3 linked regions of the Homo sapiens genome follow. The protein of the gene in region 1 purifies or fractionates together with the protein of each later gene. This does not show direct contact. Each region holds a gene or a part of one and is shown in the gene's direction. Other genes may lie near its edges.

What was found.
Region 2: the proteins of STXBP4 (region 1) and HOMER1 purify together in Homo sapiens (affinity purification with mass spectrometry; one large-scale study listed by BioGRID and IntAct). This does not show direct contact.
Region 3: the proteins of STXBP4 (region 1) and SPATA2 purify together in Homo sapiens (affinity purification with mass spectrometry; one large-scale study listed by BioGRID and IntAct). This does not show direct contact.

The regions. Positions count from the first base shown.
Region 1 is NC_000017.11:54,971,655-54,975,307, forward strand, and holds part of STXBP4 (syntaxin-binding protein 4), read left to right. Parts: intron 1-3,653. UniProt on the Homo sapiens protein: Plays a role in the translocation of transport vesicles from the cytoplasm to the plasma membrane. Inhibits the translocation of SLC2A4 from intracellular vesicles to the plasma membrane by STX4A binding and preventing the interaction between STX4A and VAMP2.
Region 2 is NC_000005.10:79,402,486-79,406,138, reverse strand, and holds part of HOMER1 (homer protein homolog 1), read left to right. Parts: intron 1-3,653. UniProt on the Homo sapiens protein: Postsynaptic density scaffolding protein. Binds and cross-links cytoplasmic regions of GRM1, GRM5, ITPR1, DNM3, RYR1, RYR2, SHANK1 and SHANK3.
Region 3 is NC_000020.11:49,905,519-49,909,171, reverse strand, and holds part of SPATA2 (spermatogenesis-associated protein 2), read left to right. Parts: intron 1-579; 5' UTR 580-681; coding exon 682-1,017; intron 1,018-2,326; coding exon 2,327-3,553; 3' UTR 3,554-3,653.

The DNA.
Region 1 (3,653 bases):
TTGTCCCAATCATTTCCATTTTAGATCTAGGATTTAATCCAGGATTACTCGTTGATTTTAGTTGTCATGCCTCTTCAGTCTTCTTCAATCTGGAATAGTTGCCAGTCTTTTCTTGTCTTTTTCTTTCCTTTTTTATTTTTATTTTTATTTTTATTTTTGAGAGACAAGATCTTGCTGGGTTGCTCAGGCTGGTTTCAAACTCCTGGCCTTAGGTGGTCTTGGTCTCCCATAGTGCTGGGATTACAGGCATGAGCCACCGCACCCAGCCTTATCTTTCATGACTTTGACATTTTTGAGGAATACAGGCTGGTTACGTGATTAAATGTGCCTCAATATAGGTCTGTCTGATGTTTCCTCATGTTTGTGACCCCTTGACAGGAATATCTTAGAGGAGATGCTGTGCTTCAATCAGTGAGTCCTCTTAGGCATCACATGATCTCAATTTATTCCGTGGTTTCATGATGTTAACTTCTGTTTCTTTAAGATTGGGTCTGCCAGGTTTCTCTGTTACAAGGTGAATTAGCAAATATGTCACATTCATAAATTAATAGGCAATGTGTGTTTTGTGGGGAGAATCTTTGTGTTTTGTAGGGAGAAGCTTTGAGACTGTAAATATTCTGTTTCTCATCATATTTTCTCCTGCCAGATTTCTCCATTGATGCTTCTTGTTTGAATCTGTTATCACTGTGATGGATGCCAAATGACAATTTTCTAATGTTATCAGTCCTTCTAGATTTATTAGTTGGCATTTTACTGTAAGGTAGGGTTTTCCTTGCTATACCATATATTTCTTGTTTATTCGTTTACATCAATATAGACTCATGACTTCAAATTTTAATCAATTTATTACTATTATTTTTTAATTCTGATTTCAAATTTTCTTAGACTTAGCCAATAGAAGCCCCTTTATGACATGTTTCCATCATTCTTTCATCACTTCCTTATTTTCTGGCACTACAATGTGCCATGCTTATCTTGTATTTTCCTGACCTGCCTTGGAATCAGCCTTCTCTGCCACGAATTTTGGTTTCTTTAGTGGAAAGTGGCATTTAGAAAAAACTCTGAGCACTAGAAGTGTTCATTACTAGCCTCTCTCAGCAGAGACCCTAGAAAATTTTTGTGTATAAACAAGTGTGCATATGTGTGTTCAACAGCAGGAAATCTGGCTACCTTTATCTTCAGTGTATGTACTTACTTGCTCAATTCCCCCCATATGTAAGCAAATTACTGTGGCTGAAAGCTTGGCCCTAGAAAAGTGAATTCATCTCTGCCTGGTATGTCAGCCCAAAGCTGAGTATTAAATATGCTGCCCACTGGACACCATCCAAACACTCAGCAAGACAAAAGTGACGAGGAAGAAAGAAAGAGAAAAGTGTATTTAGGAAGTTCAGCTCCAGACATTTTAGAAAGGGTAGGAGGAAGGAGGAAAGGCCAGTTAGGAAGTTTGGTTCTAGACACATAGGCCCTTTCACCTACCCTTTTCCCAAGCTCAGCGCATGGATAGGGGAAGCAGGCTTAGAATGATGAGTTAACTTGTCCAAGCCTAATCGGTTGGGTAGTGGCAGAGCTGGAGTTTAAGCCTGGATTTTTTCTGACTCCTTACAACTTGCTATTTTTACTGCGTCTTGTAGAAAGCAGCTTTGCAACGGATGACAACAAAACAACAACAAAAACACTGAAGCCTTTCTTTTCTATATTAGGAAATATTTCTTTACTTTTGTCTCAGGTAAAAATCATCATTAACGTGGTTAGATGCCTATTTGTAAGATGGCATATTTGAAGTTATTTCTAAGCTAGAACAAACAGCTTAGACAGAGTTGAGCATAGTAGGATTGGGGTCAGAGACCGAGGTTATAACCTGGATACAAGGAGTTCTTATGATGATGAAAGGTCTGTCAATATGCATAGATACAATAACAATACAACATTGGGAGATGCTGAAATGAATATTTTTTTCTCTAAAGCTTTAAATGAATGCATAAGCCTGGGCTGCAATTTTTGTGAGTCTGAGTGTGCTTGTAATAATACATAAATTGTTACGATAACTAATGCCAAATAATGGATTATACCATGAATGGAATGAGAGCTCCTCAGGGCAGGGCTAATCCAACCCTGTTTTGTAGGTAGAGGTGTTAATTACACATTTTAAATATCAAGAGCTGGACTGACATTTCAGATTTGACACCTTTAATTTGCAACATTATTCTTCAGCAATAAACGTTAAACCTTGTAAACTCTTTCTGGTTAGCTATAATCATGTCCAATTTTATATATTAGGTAAAGTAAGTTATATAAGTTATTTTTCATATAAGCCATTTTGATATTCACATAATGTTTTCTTATCTGATTATTGATTTTTAGGCTTTCTATGGATTATAAAGATGTATTATTTTAAATTTTGGTATTTTTAATCCATAACATAAGTTAAGGAAATTGGGACTTCAGTCTTAATATGGTGGTCGTCACTGAACTGTATTTTCTAGTGGTTTTCCTGATAAAGCTCCTGAATCCATTTAACGATGTGAAATACCTAACAATAATTCTGACAATACTCACAACTGTTTATTTGGTAGCTATTTTTATCACAATACTTGTATCTAAAAGAATAAGAATAATGTATTTGAATAAATAGTAAGTACAAATATATGGTGTTTGCTTAAGAAAAGGCAGGGTAATCATTGTTTTCCAATTAGTGCACAATAATGCCCTGAAGTCGTCTCAGTCAGTTTTGATACCCTAGTTTCTTATTTTCTGGCAGTGGCCTCTGTGCCATCTTTTTGAGGAACTACTCCGTTTAAAAGCTCTTGATTAAGTTTATATGATTGACAGATAATGTGAAAGGAAAACAGAAATCATTTATCAATAGAAGGCATTTATTAATTCAAGTAATGTTTATCAAGATCAGGGCCAGCTTCATGAAAATATGACCTGTGCAGTCACACAAGGCCCTACTCTTAAAAGGGCCCCTCACTTATGATGTAGGACATGCAAGCCCCCAAATTGGGGCTTAGCCCAGGAGGGTTCTTGGCTTGGCCTAGAAAAGAATTCCAGGGCAAGCTGGTGGTGTTAAACAGCAACTTTTATTGAAGTGGCATTGTACAGTAAGCAGCAGAGAGACTGCTTCTTGCAGAAAGGGGCTACCCCATAGGCACTCTGCCCAGAATAGCAGCTTAGAGGCAGTTTTGCAAACTCATAGTTATACCCGCTTTTAATTATATGCAAATTAAGGGACAGTTTATGCAGAAATTTCTAGGATGAGTGTGGTAATTTCCAGTTCATAGGGTCATTGCCATGGAAAGGGGTGGTAAGATCTGTATGTTGCCATGGCGATAGTAAACTGATGTGGCACACTGGTGGCCATGTCTTCTGGAAAGGCTTCTATCCAGGAACTTTTTAGCTGATCCTCAGGTTCGTTCCAAGTCCTGATTCCTACCCCACTTAGATAAGCCCTGTGTTTGTTTAATGCTCTACTGTCAGCATCTTGAAATTATTTTTTGTTTTTGAGACGGAGTCTCACTCTGTCACCCAGGCTGGAGTGCAATGGCATGATCTCGGCTCACTGCAACCTCTGCCTCCCAGGTTCAAGTGATCTTCCTGCCTCAGCCTCCTGAGTAGTAGCTGGGATTACAGGCGCATACCACCATGCCCTGCTA
Region 2 (3,653 bases), on another chromosome or scaffold:
TAATTGATGTGGTGTTATAACTACCTAGACTACTCATATAAAAAGTACTTCTGCCAATCGGTATTAACTTGTAAATTACGCCAAAACAAGGCAACTAGTTCAGGAATACCAACCTTTTCTTAAACAGGTTTGTTGTAGATTCTCCATGTTCCAGGTCTACAGTGTTTTATAGATGAAATCCCTGTTACCGTATATGCATGCCTGATAAGTTTAAAATGGGAGTCAAGAAACTCCATATGATTCTACTACCCAAAACTAGTGTGAAATTCCATCCCTGATGTGAGAGCTAAAATATTTATATTTGAGGTTTTTATTAGTGTTGAAAGTTTTATTAAAATTAGTGTTATAAAATTTACTACTCATTAATTGATTTGATCTGAGGTTAGCCTTGCACTTATTTCATAGTGAATACCTTTACTTTTCATTTAGTGCATTGACTAAGCTTGCACAGATTGGCAAGCACCAGGTTTTGCTGGTAAGTGAAAGGATGGGTGTAATAACTGGAAAATACTTGTTGGAGAAAACTTGAATCAATGAAAGGAAAAAATGCAATCTGATAGATTCTGAATATAGAAAAAATTGGACAAAAATTCATAGAAAAAAATGAGAATCTGATTGAGAAGAAGAGCTCATCACAGAAAAGCCAGCTTGATTAGAACAGGAAATATAATCCATGTACTTCAATTCAGGAAGATGGGGCAAATTGATAGGTTACATAATGTGGGTTTAAAAAATTATGTTTATTAGTTTGCTTGAGTTGTCCTAAAAAATGCTGTAGACTGCATGGCTTAAACTATAGAAATCTATTTTCTCATAGTTCTGGAGGCTAGAAGTCTGAGATCAAGGCGTCTGCAGGGTCATTTCTTCCGAGGCCTCTCTCCTCGTCTTGTAGATGGCTGTCGTCTCTTTTTATGTTCGTGTGTCTGTGTCCTAATCCCCTCCTCTTGTAAGGACACCATTTATACTGGATTATGGCCCACCCTAATGACCACATTAAACCTTAATTACCTCTTTAAAGACTCTGTCTCCAAATACAGTCATACTGTGAGATCCTGGGAGTTAGAACTTCAATATATGAGTTTTGGAGGGACACAGTTCAGCCTCACGCACAGAATCGAAGAGGCAATCAGGACCGGGCACGATGGCTCATGCCTGTAATCCCAGCACTTTGGAAGGCCGAGGCGGGTGGATCACCTGAGGTCAGGAGTTAGCGACCAGCCTGGCCAACATGGTGAAACCCTATCTCTACTAAAAATATTAAAAAAAAAAAAAAATAGCTGGGCGTGGTGGTGGGCACCTCCCAGCTACTTGGGAGGCTGAGGCAGGAGAATCGCTTGAACCTGGAAGGCGGAGGTTGCATGAGCTGAGATTGTGCCATTGCACTCCAGCCTGGGCAACAAGAGCGAAACTCCATCTCAAAGAAAGAAAGAAAGAAAGAAAAGGCAGAATGTCAAGATCCTCTTGAACAGTACTGTTCAGTAGAACTTTTTGTCATGATGAAATGTTCTGTTATCTTTGCTGTCCAGGGTAGTAGCCACCAGTCATGTGTGGCTGTTGAGTGCATGAAATGTGTCTCAAATTCAAAGCTGAATTTTTTACTTTAATTTTGAAGTATTACATTTAAATAGCCACATGCTAATATTTGGATAATACAGATCTTGACTGATCTATTTATTTGACATATAAAGAACTGAGAACCAAAGTGCTTGAGTGTTGGGTCCGAGGTTACCCAGATAATTACTGAATACTTGTGATGTAAGCAGTTATAAAATGCTTGATGGATTTTACTGTCTAGTGACTATAAAATAAAACCCACATAAATATAATAGAAAAACACCCTCATTTTAAAATTATTTCTCCTGCTATAAATATGTGGTAATCCATTTTACTTTATAATTGTGTGATTTTGACAAATGGATTTTAGGAGTAAATAATTGTTGTTTCTTCCAGTTAATTTTTAAAGGTGTTTGCTATTGACATGTAACAAGTGTTTAAATTAGTTCACTAAGATGTCAATCGTCAGATTGAAGTTTCCATTTAAATAAAACGCATCTCTATAGGGGAAAAACTGGTAGGTGGTTTAAAGAAAAATCTATAATTCAGTTAGAGCAGGTGAATCCATGCATGCTTTTTTCAGAAGACATGAATCTGAAAAATCATTTCACAAAGGAAGAATAAGAAAAGAGCTTTCCTTTTCAGGATAGAAATGGATTGTTAAGTTAATAGCTTAGCTTGTTGCTTGATTCTATCCTTTCATGTTTTGATGATATTTTCTCACTTAGTAAACTTTAGGAATATTTTTAACTTTTCATTTTAAACTAATTTTAGACTTATAGAAAAATCACAAAAACTGTACAGAGTGCCCGTATACACTTCACACAGCTTCCCTTAATGTTAACATCTTGTGTAACCATAATACAATGATCAAATCCAGGGCAGTAGCATTGATACAATACTACTAACTAACCCTCAGTTTTCACCAATGTTCCCTTTCTGTTCTAGGAACCTACCTAAGATCCCACCTTGCATTTAACTGTTATTTCCTGTTTCCTTCATTTTCTTCACATGTTTGAAGAGTTTCAGTTATTTTACAGATTGTCCCTCAGTTTGGGTTTATATGATATTTTCTCATTGTTTGACTGAAGTTACGCATTTATTGCAAGAATACTACAGACACAATCTTGTGTCATTCTCTGTACATCATATCAGGGGGTTCGTGATGCTAATATGTCATATTTCTGGTGATAAACTTTAGAAATCTTGGTGATGAAAACTATGCTTTTTAAATAAAATATATGCTAAAATTACTATAAAATATCAACCCATCAAATTTACCCTAGAATACAAATGATTTATCAAACCCCCAAAAAATGGTGATTGAAGAAAGCTATAAGCCTCACTAGTTAGTTAATGGGATGAGGTTAGTAGAATTTAACTAATAGAAATAAACTTCAATAATGAGAAAGAGAAACAACCTTTTTCTTTCTAATGAGGCAATTCTTCATTGGAAAGTTAGGAAAGGAATTTTCAAGAGGAGTCTTTCCAACTAAAAGAATTGTCTTGTAGTAGAAAATTGTTTTAGTTGAGGTACTTAACTGTAGTAACTTATCAAGTAGAATATTAAATGAGGAAAAACGGTGATTGCTTTAGTCTTCTTCTATTTATGACACTGGAATTATATCAGAAGTCAAGTCTTTAGAACCAGTTTGTAGGCCTAGCCTTTCCTATGAAATCAGTTTATTGTAGCAAATGTTTGTATTTTTGACATTTTAAGGTCCTGAATAAGATGAAATAAATCAAAAACAATTTCAAAAGAAATACTACATTACATATCCCAAACCTTATGACATTTAAGCATCCTCATATGTTTTCATTAAGGAATAACATTGTACTTTAGGGTTTGACACACGTAAAAAATGTAATACATTGTTAGGTTTTTTTAATAGATGTTTTTCAGGCTATAATGTTTATTCCTTAAAAGAGAATGGGTGGAAACTCTTCTGTAGATAACTGTATCTGTCATAATGAAGGTTGGAAACATTCCACGTTAAGCCTGGTACTTGAGTACTTTTTATATTTCTTCACTTGCCAGGTTTTCTTTACTAGGAATATTTTGGTAAAGTATTTGTGTTTTTTAGTATTTTGAGGTTGTC
Region 3 (3,653 bases), on another chromosome or scaffold:
AGGTGCCTGTAATCCCAGCTACTTGGGAGGCTGAGGCAGGAGAATCGCTTGAACCCGGGAGGCGGAGGTTGCAGTGAGCTGAGATCACGCCACTGCACTCCAGCCTGGGCTACAGAGCAAGGATCCATCTCAAAAAAAAAGTAAGCGAGTTAGTGTGTGTGAAGCTCGTCACGTGTCTGGAGCCTCTGGTACTATTAGCTCAGGGCCTTCCTCTACTGCGACTCCTTCCCCGGCCTCTTGGCCTGGCAGACTCCTCATCCTTCAGGTCTGTTGCTGTCTCAAGAGGGCTTTCCTAAACTCGCCCTTCCCCAACGAAACCAGGACAGGAGCTCCTGCTGTACTCACCCGAATTTCTCTTTCAGGAATATTAATCGTATTTTTCATTTGTGAGCACAACAAAGTCAAGGTCCATCTCTCTCTGGCCTCTGTTGTAACCCTGCTTGTAGTACATGCTCTGTAGTGTGCTGCTGGGGTCCAGTGTAGCCCAGGCCAGTTCTGCTGTTCATTTTGCCTCAGCGACCTGAAGCCGAAGCGCGACCGTATCGAGGAATGACATGCTTCTTGTTCCCCTCCTTCCAGAGCACTCCGCTGGTCCAGGCGGCAACATGTCCATGCTTTTAGTGATGTCCCTGCCTCTAATCCAGAAGCCATGGAGGAGATAAGGTAGCCCCCCTCGATCGGATGGGGAAGCCCAGTTCAATGGATACTAAATTCAAGGATGACTTATTTCGGAAGTACGTGCAGTTCCATGAGAGCAAAGTGGATACCACCACCAGCAGGCAGCGGCCTGGCAGCGATGAGTGCCTGCGGGTGGCAGCCTCAACCCTGCTCAGCCTGCACAAGGTGGATCCCTTTTATCGATTCCGGCTGATCCAGTTCTATGAGGTGGTGGAGAGCTCCTTGCGCTCGCTCAGCTCCTCTAGCCTGCGGGCTCTGCACGGCGCCTTCAGCATGCTGGAGACGGTGGGCATCAACCTCTTCCTCTACCCGTGGAAGAAGGAATTCAGAAGCATCAAGGTGAGGTCCTGGAGCAGCCTCCATACAGGCCCTCCTTCTCTCTTCCTGCCCCTGGCAGTCCCTCCTGAGAGGCTATGCCAGTCTGATCCCATCCATCCTGTGCTCTCAGATCCTTCCGGGCTCCGAACCTTCCCCGTCTCTCCAGCATCACCTCTGAACCGTTTCTGGCCCGGCTGCCACACCTTAAGCAGAGAAGCTGGGAAGGCAGGGGCAGCCAGGTTATGCAGGGTCTTGTGGCCCAGGGCAAGGCTTGGATTTGTTCTGAGTAGGCGGGGAAGGAGGCAGTGTGGGATCTGGCTTGCATCTGAAGAGGGTCATTCTGGCTGTGGTATGGGAAGTAGGCTGTAGAGGGGTGGGGGGAGGTGGGAGGGATGGGGAGAGCAGTTAGGAAGCTTCTCAGCGGTCCCAGCAAGCTGAGGGGTGTTCTGTACTAAGTGGGAACAGTAGAGGAGGAGGGGGAATTGAGAGAGGGATCCTGAATCAGACCACGCGGGGGATGGCACAGGAGAGCTGTCACCTAGCCAGGCTTCTTCATTCTGCCATGGGAGGAGTGGTAATCAAGAGAGGGGATGGCACAGGAGAGCTGTCACCTAGCCAGGCCCTTCAGTCTGCCGTGTTACTCAGCCCCTCATGGAAATACCAGAGAGGAACGTTCTGATTGTCACCGCGTTCTGCCTGTAATCTGGCCCCTTTATTCAGCCATGTTTGCCCAGGCTCTCTCTTCATATGGAGTAGAGTCTTCGTGCCCCACTAGGAAGCGAGAGGTTTTGCTTCCTGTGTTTAACAAAGTAGCTGCTGCCAGGCGCGGTGGCTCACACCTGTAATCCCAGCACATTGGGAGGCCGAGGCGGGTGGATCACGAGGTCAGGAGTTTGAGACCAGCTTGACCAGCACGGTGAAACCCCATCTCTACTAAAAACAGAAAAATTAGCTGGGCGTGTTGGCGGGCGCCTGTAATCCCAGCTATTCAGGAGGCTGAGGCAGGAGAATCGCTTGAACCCAGGAGGCGGAGGTTGCAGTGAGCCAAGATCGCACCACCGCACTCCACCCTGGGCAAAAGAGCGAGACTCCGTCTCAAACAAAAGAAAGGAGCTGCTGGGTCATTTCCTTGCACAATTCCTGAGTGCTTAGCAAGCCCCAGCTCCTGCGTCTTCTGCCTCCCGCAGGGTGAGGCTGTCGAGATCCTTCCCTGCCCTGCCCTCTCCCCGCCGCCCCACTTCAGAGCTGGACATCCTTTGCTTTGACATAGTCTCTGTCTTGTGTCTCTGACAGAAAACCCCACCTTTCTTTTCTACTCCCTCCCTTCTAGACCTACACGGGCCCTTTTGTTTATTATGTCAAGTCGACATTACTGGAAGAGGACATCCGAGCCATCCTGAGCTGCATGGGCTACACACCTGAGCTGGGCACTGCATACAAGCTCAGAGAGCTCGTGGAGACCCTCCAGGTGAAGATGGTCTCCTTTGAGCTCTTTCTGGCCAAAGTCGAGTGTGAGCAGATGCTAGAAATCCACTCACAAGTGAAGGACAAGGGCTACTCCGAGCTGGACATTGTGAGCGAGCGCAAGAGCAGTGCAGAGGATGTGCGCGGCTGCTCGGACGCCCTGCGGCGGCGGGCAGAGGGCCGGGAGCACCTGACGGCCTCCATGTCACGAGTGGCACTCCAGAAGTCGGCCAGCGAGCGGGCGGCCAAGGACTACTACAAGCCCCGCGTGACCAAGCCCTCGAGGTCAGTGGATGCCTATGACAGCTACTGGGAGAGCCGGAAGCCACCCCTGAAGGCCTCATTGAGTCTTCGGAAGGAGCCTGTGGCAACGGATGTGGGGGACGACCTCAAGGATGAGATCATCCGCCCATCCCCTTCGCTGCTGACCATGGCCAGCTCCCCCCACGGCAGCCCGGATGTGCTTCCACCCGCCTCCCCCAGCAACGGCCCGGCCCTGCTGCGCGGTACCTACTTCTCCACTCAGGATGACGTGGATCTGTACACAGACTCTGAACCCAGGGCCACCTACCGTCGGCAGGATGCTCTGCGGCCGGATGTGTGGCTGCTCAGAAACGATGCCCACTCCCTCTACCACAAGCGCTCGCCCCCTGCCAAAGAGTCCGCCCTCTCCAAGTGCCAAAGCTGCGGGCTGTCCTGCAGCTCCTCCCTCTGCCAGCGCTGTGACAGCCTGCTCACCTGTCCTCCAGCTTCCAAGCCCAGCGCCTTCCCCAGCAAGGCCTCGACTCATGACAGCCTGGCCCACGGGGCATCTCTGCGGGAGAAGTACCCAGGCCAGACTCAGGGCCTCGACCGCCTCCCGCACCTTCACTCCAAATCCAAGCCCTCCACCACGCCCACTTCCCGCTGTGGCTTCTGCAACCGCCCAGGCGCCACCAACACCTGCACCCAGTGTTCAAAAGTCTCATGTGACGCCTGCCTCAGCGCTTACCATTATGACCCCTGCTACAAAAAGAGTGAGCTGCACAAGTTCATGCCCAACAACCAGCTGAACTACAAGTCCACCCAGCTCTCCCATCTCGTGTACAGATAGACCGGCCTCGCCCCTTCCAGCTCCAAGGGCTACATCAACCGACCTTTCGGGTTTCACGGTGAAGAAGTACTAACGCATTGATCTCAGAGGCGGAGGCCTG